Regions from separate parts of the Homo sapiens genome. Here region 2 is reported to be linked to region 1. The links are microRNA targets in miRTarBase. Many come from high-throughput screens and were not tested one by one. Region 1 holds a microRNA gene; the other region holds the end of a gene's coding sequence.

The links. Region 1 holds the annotated microRNA hsa-miR-574-3p (CACGCUCAUGCACACACCCACA, at 1,183-1,204, shown strand). A microRNA usually pairs through its seed, bases 2 to 8, with sites in the 3' UTR of a target mRNA and lowers its output. Matches are read on the target gene's strand: a 7mer-m8 pairs with bases 2 to 8, a 7mer-A1 pairs with bases 2 to 7 and ends in A, and an 8mer does both.
Region 2: miRTarBase lists PDZD2 as a target of hsa-miR-574-3p. The part of its 3' UTR that is shown has no 7-base or 8-base seed match.

The regions. Positions count from the first base shown.
Region 1 is chr4:38,866,910-38,870,075 of GRCh38, forward strand. It overlaps MIR574 (microRNA 574), which reads left to right and starts at 1,123; the gene lies at 1,123-1,218. FAM114A1 (family with sequence similarity 114 member A1) reads left to right here and starts at 897. Exons shown (of 15, transcript NM_138389.4): 1 at 897-925; 2 at 1,489-1,637. It also overlaps a transcript of TLR6 not described here. RefSeq lists silencers at 661-1,140, 1,191-1,240 and an enhancer at 1,448-2,031.
Region 2 is chr5:32,107,744-32,110,909 of GRCh38, forward strand. PDZD2 (PDZ domain containing 2) reads left to right here. Exons shown (of 25, transcript NM_178140.4): 25 at 226-3,166. The coding sequence ends at 392. LOC105374711 (a long non-coding RNA gene) reads right to left here and starts at 448. Exons shown (of 4, transcript XR_007058716.1): 1 at 1-448.

The DNA of each region.
Region 1 (3,166 bases):
GGAGAAAATCTGCCTTAAACACATCGCTCAGAAAGAATCACTATTTTTAAATTGTATTTCCTCCGACTTTTATAGAAAATACAAAATTGTTTACAAAACTAGTTAATACTATAAACACTGCGCTTCCTCCGCATCTGAGTTCATATTAAGCCATATTTGAGGAAGGCCTTCATATGTGGCCTTCCCTCCATGTCAACGAATCCTCATTTTTAAGGGCTACAACATATTCGATGTCTGAAGTTACTGTAGCTTACTTCACCAATCTTACTGGGGGACATTGAGATTGTCTCCGGCTTCCCCCCGCAGAAACAACTACAACAAACATCCTTGTACATACATATTTGCCCATTTGACTGCCTACTTAGGACAAATTCACAAATGTGGAATTCCTAGGCCAAAGCTAATACATCGGAGTTTTAACCCACAGCTCCAAACTGGCCTTCTGGAAAGTGGGTTTTCGTTGTTTGTTTGGGGTTTGTTTGTTTTAAATCTATCACACTCCCACCGACAGGGCAAGGGAGTGCTGCTTAACGCAGAATCAGGAGATCAAACTTTAGCTGAATTTGAGCGACCTCTTCCCAGTGACACGGCGGGGGGTTTTCCAAGCCCTTTTAAGGAAAGGAAAGGGATCTGGCGAACCCCGAGACCCACCCGCCCTGGGCTGGAGAGGCGGCGCGCTCTGGCTTTCCGCGCTGGCACAGGGGTGGGACAAGCCAAGTTTCCAGGAGACTCGCCCAGCGCGGGCCCGGCCCTCGCAGCGTGGGGGTGGCCGGGCGTCCCCGCGGCGCTCCTCGTGGGGCGGGGCGCAGGCGGGGCGGGGCCCCCTCTCCAGCCGCCCGCCCTCCGGCCGCGTCCCCGCCGGCCCTGCAGACGTGGCGGGGCGGGACCCGCTGGGCACTCCCGCGCGTACTCGGCCGCCTGAGCGGTAAGAGCCCCGGGCACTCGGTCCCCATCCCCTTCCCCGGGGGGCGGGCGAGCGCGGGGGCGGCTGCCCGGGGGTGGTGGGAACACCATACCTTGGCGCCTCGTCCGGGACCCACGAATCCTGCCCTCTGCGTTAGTGAGAAGCAGTGGTCAGGGAGGACCCGGCTCTGGGGTGAGGGTCTGGGGCGGCGCGGCCGAGGGACCTGCGTGGGTGCGGGCGTGTGAGTGTGTGTGTGTGAGTGTGTGTCGCTCCGGGTCCACGCTCATGCACACACCCACACGCCCACACTCAGGGTCTGCCCCCTCGGCCTGCGTGAACCTCCGCGGAGCCTGCCTGGATCTCCCAAAGTATCCAGTCCTGGCACCAAGCAAGTCTGGAAAAGTGCCCCCAATGGCTCGGGGCCAAGTCAGAGGTGGGCTGCAGGGTCCCCCAGCCCGGGCACGAAGGGAGCAGGTCCCTGTAAGACAGAGGCCTCGTCCCAGGGTGCGCCTGCCCTCGGCCTTGGCACAGGGAGCTCAGGCCTTGACCTCCCCGCTCCCCTCGCCTTACTCCTCCCCCAACAGCCGACCCACGCCCTGCCTGCTCTTCCAGTCCAGCCAACACTCTAAGCAGGCACCGCCTCCACTCGCAGCCCCCGGGATGGGTCCCACTCCCTACCGCAGATCCCCAGGCCCCCTCCACCCAGTCGGCTAGCCCTCGCCTCTGCCATCCGGTGAGTATTTCCAGGCACCTCAGACCAGGCGCCTGAACGTCACTGCCTTTTCTTAAGTAGGAAGACATCTCTCTATGGGCTGTGAGAGCATTACCTATGCCCTACTGATCCCATCATTTCCCATCCTAAACATCTTGAAGGACACAGGCAGGTGGCTTCTTAAATCAGTGTGCTCTGAACTCCCTGTGACCTCAGCCAACCTGTGACAACTGAGAATGAGACAGGCTCTATCCTCAGAGCCTCTTTTTGCCCTCTCTGCAGCCTAGTGGCTCCTTCCCTACCCCACCCATAGGCCTGCGTCCCCGCCCTCCTTTCTTCCATCAAGCCTGAGCTTGGGAAAGAATCTGATAAACTTCTTACATTGTAACCTTTAAGTGAAGGAATGAGACGTTAGGGATGGATTTGAGGCACAAGTGAGACAGTGCAGAAGGAATTTGAGGGTTGGAGGGGGCTTTCTTGAATCTGAGCGATTCAGACCATAAAAGTAAACTTGTCTTTGTTTATTTGACCAGGCTTACATCAAACATGGTTTCTCTTTTATTAATATCAAACACAATGTATTTCAATTCAGTAAATATCTGAGGGACAGAAACCAACCTAGGTGCTGTTGGTCACAGTCTTGGAGGACAGAATGGCAGAAGTAAATACTCCATAAATACATGGAATAGAAATCTGTGCAAAGTGCCAAAAACATAGAAGAGGTAGCAGTTATTTCATTGGAAGCAGTGGGGCAGATTAAGGAAAAATTCAGAATGAAAGGTAACATTAGACACTGGGTGTCTAGAGGAATAGGAGTTTGCCAGGCAGCTGGAGGAAGGGCAGCACCGGGGCAGAGGAACCAGCGTAAGCAAAGGCAGGGAGATGTGAAGAGTTATGGGGAATGGAGAAAAGACTGGTGAGGCAGGAGTGGAGGATACTGAGAGTTGCAAGAGGTGGAGAGAGATTGGAGCTGGATTATGATGGGAAGTGTGAAGATATTTACACCTAATGGTTTTTGAACAGGAGAGCAAATAGGTCCAAAAATGCCTGGCAGCCTCACAGAGAATAGGCTGGAGCCTGGGTACGTAGACTTGTCAAGCTTTATACAAACTCATACAAACTGCTACAACCTGATTAAGAGCCTCTCATCCAGAGTTTTTATTCCTGGTCCTTCGCTGACTGGCACTGTTTTTGTTTTTTTTTTTTAACTGGGGGAGATGACCTCACACAGGATATCATGCTAACCAAATTTTTATGCTGCCAAGTCAGGCCATTTTTTTTAAAAAAATCCATCCACTGTCACTATTTCATAAAATGAAAGACATTTTAATACCAAGAAAAAGCACAAAGGCTAAACTTGAAAGATGAAGGCAGTCCTTTACATTTAATAAATTTAGATTTATGAAAAACTTGCAATCTTGTCCTCATTTTTCTCTATCATCACAGACTTGCCCCAGTCCTGCAGGTGGAGTTTGGAAAAAAAAGCATCCAGATCAGTTTGTCCATCCTAGCTTTACAGAGGAGCAGGTGTAAGCACAGTGAGGATCAAG
Region 2 (3,166 bases), not on the chromosome of region 1:
TTACAGATTATGTTTGGAGGGGCGGCAGGAGGGCTAGAGTTGCACTGTTTTCTGTAGACCAGTTTACTTTTATGGATATATGCTTTTTGTGTTCTAAGAAATATTTCTCTATTCAATAATATATTATTTAGATATTTTTATCACTTAAAAGTTTTTAGTTTACTTAGGATTTTTGAATACTATGAAACTGCCAAGCTATTAATTATTCTGTGTTTATTCTCGTAGGTGGTGCGGCTGAACAAGCTGGAATAATAGAAGCTGGAGATGAAATTCTTGCTATTAATGGGAAACCTCTGGTTGGGCTCATGCACTTTGATGCCTGGAATATTATGAAGTCTGTCCCAGAAGGACCTGTGCAGTTATTAATTAGAAAGCATAGGAATTCTTCATGAATTTTAACAAGAATCATTTTCTCAGTTCTCTTCTTTCTTTAGCAAATCAGAGTGACTTCTTTAAACCACAGGTTGTTGAAATGGCCAACACTGGTACAGACACGGACTATAAAAATCTCCAAGCTTGTGCTTACACATGAAGCCTGACTTAACTGTATGTGCAACAGCAATGAAATTAACTCCAGAAGCCTTCCACCTGCGTCACCCAGGCCGGGAGGGTTCCTTCGTTCCAGTGCCTGTCCCCTACCTTTATGTTATGTTTACTGATGGGGATACAAGATGTGACACACCCTTCTTTATTTGAAACAAACAAACATTTAGCTAGACCTTTGCTTCCTTCTTGCCAGCTCTCCCAACATACCCAATCCTGGTGATCAGGGAACTAAAAGTCTGAGGGGGACACAAATGTCACACCTAAGAGGACAATCAATCATTTTGTATGATTTTGTAAGTAAATGACAGAATGCTTTTAGGCACATTCAATGGAAGGAGGAGATGTAGGTCTGTATATGTTACCCTGAAAAGAGAATAAGACTTACTTAAAAAAATGAATTATGACCTGTTAGGCTGAGCTCAGGAATTGTCCAAAAAGGAAAAAGCAAAATAATTAATTGAGAGTATTTTTTAGTGAGTGTAATGTATAATGTACGTATGCAAAGTTCAACTCAATAGGTTATTGATCACCATGAAGTATTGATCATTTTCTATCTCAAAAGTGTAAGCCATAAGGCTGTTTTACAGAATAGCACTTCTGATAAGCTGTATTAAATAGCCATGAGCTTCACTGCTTAGAGGGAGCAGAAAGGTCAACATCTAAAAGCACCTTACAACTAGTTTTTGAACCTGTCTTGATAAGTGCTTGAATTCAAGACTGGTCAGTCCAAGAGCAGACAAAAATATCACAAGTCAGTCAGTCACTGGGTTTCCATTTCTGAATTTTATGCACTCCAACCATGAATTTAAACTAAATTTTTAGAAATCAAGTATCTTTCTAAGTGTCCTTGGATTTATAGACAATGTATGTACAATCCAAATAGAGGAGCTTAATGGAATCCTTTTAGGAGACTGGTTGGTTTTTTTCCCTCTTTCCCAACATGTTTAAGAAATGTAACATTCTAAGTATTGGATCTCTTTTCTTGACCTAGTATAATGACAACTGCAGTGACTTAAGTTTTTGCTGTTTTCGTTTTCCCGCTTTGCAATTTCCTCCTTTTGCCAAAAATGTTTTCCTACAGAAGACTGTCGTGACTCACGCTACTTGGGAAACTCACTCTGGCCACTCCTCCTCTGGTGGCATGAGCTGCTTCCCAGTAGCTATTCCGATTGGATATTCCGTTCGTCGTCACATAGCTGGCTTTTCTCTCCTCATGATGTACCTTATTTTCTTAGGTAAATAATTCCAAACTCTCATCGGGTCATAAAGAGGAGGAGAAACAGGGTGAGTCAAGGTAAAGGAGCAGAAATGTAGTTACAAGCCAGGTCGTCTTCAGTGGCACAAACCAACCCGTTGAGCCCTGACAACATGAGTGGAGAGTGCATTTGCCATACCTGTGTGCATGACACTAAGATTTTATGTTGGAGATACTTCTTTAAATAACCTACAGCTTGGGTCTATGGCTGTGACCCCCAGATTCATGGAGGGGCTTTAGCCATCAGCTTTGTACATCATCATTTTTCTGAATGACCAATCCCACTAAACATCTTTGAAGTCGGCCTAGAGAGGTCCTTCAGATGAGAGAGAAATAGCTGGCTTGTCTGAGTCCAGATTTCTCATCAACTGGCAATACAAAGGAAAATATGGTACAGGAGTTAGTTAGAAAGGTCTTATTGATTTTACTTCTACTTTTCACTACAGTTACAGGTAGAATACTGTAGGAAGTCAGTGCAAGGTGCATGCTTGATTGATAGATATTGATTGATTGTTTTTCAGTCTCTGGGGTCAGTTTTGTGGTTTCTGCTTTCTTGCCTAAATCAAAGACTATTTCAAGTCAACAACACTGAAAACTGCTTTTCGCCTCCACTCTTACAGCTGTGCCTAATAATAATTAATTAATAAACGCACAGCCCTATGTGAACAGACAGGAATTTCTTGTGCAATGTGGAGCAAATGGAATGGTCTCCTTCCGCAAGTCTTTTTAATCCTCATATCTGGAGTACAAGGGTAGACCTCTGGCTTACCACATACACTATGCTAAAGTCATCAGCCACTGCTACTACATCTTGCCAGAAGGTTTCCCTCGCCAACAAACAGTTGAAATTTAAGGGAAGAAGCAAAAGCTAAACTGTCTTTGACCCTAAGATAGATAGAAAGCTATTTATTTGTCTTCAGTGTTCAAGGCATGACTAGTATTTCTAATTAGCCTAATAAATTCCCACACTTTCTGAAGTGAACACTAATGGTATTGTCCTACTAAAACTGTCATTGTTTCTTTTTTTTTAACTGGTCAGTCATTCACAATAAGCTATGAGGGTAAATAAATATGTGTTATAACAAGTAAACCGTAGTTGCAAGAATATACCATGAAGATTAAAGTAGGCTGGGTTTCATTTCCATCTTCCCACACATCTCATTGAATTTGATGGTTGACTTAATTGGCACCATAACTTTGTATGATATTATACATTAACCTTTATTTATGTAAAGTAAAATGCCTTATATATTAAAGAGTAAGTGCAATAATATGAAATAGCCTGTACATTTTAAAAATGTTGTCACCAAGTTATATAAATCCACATCTCTGTAAACAACCTTTTTTAAGTAATTTTAAAAAAAA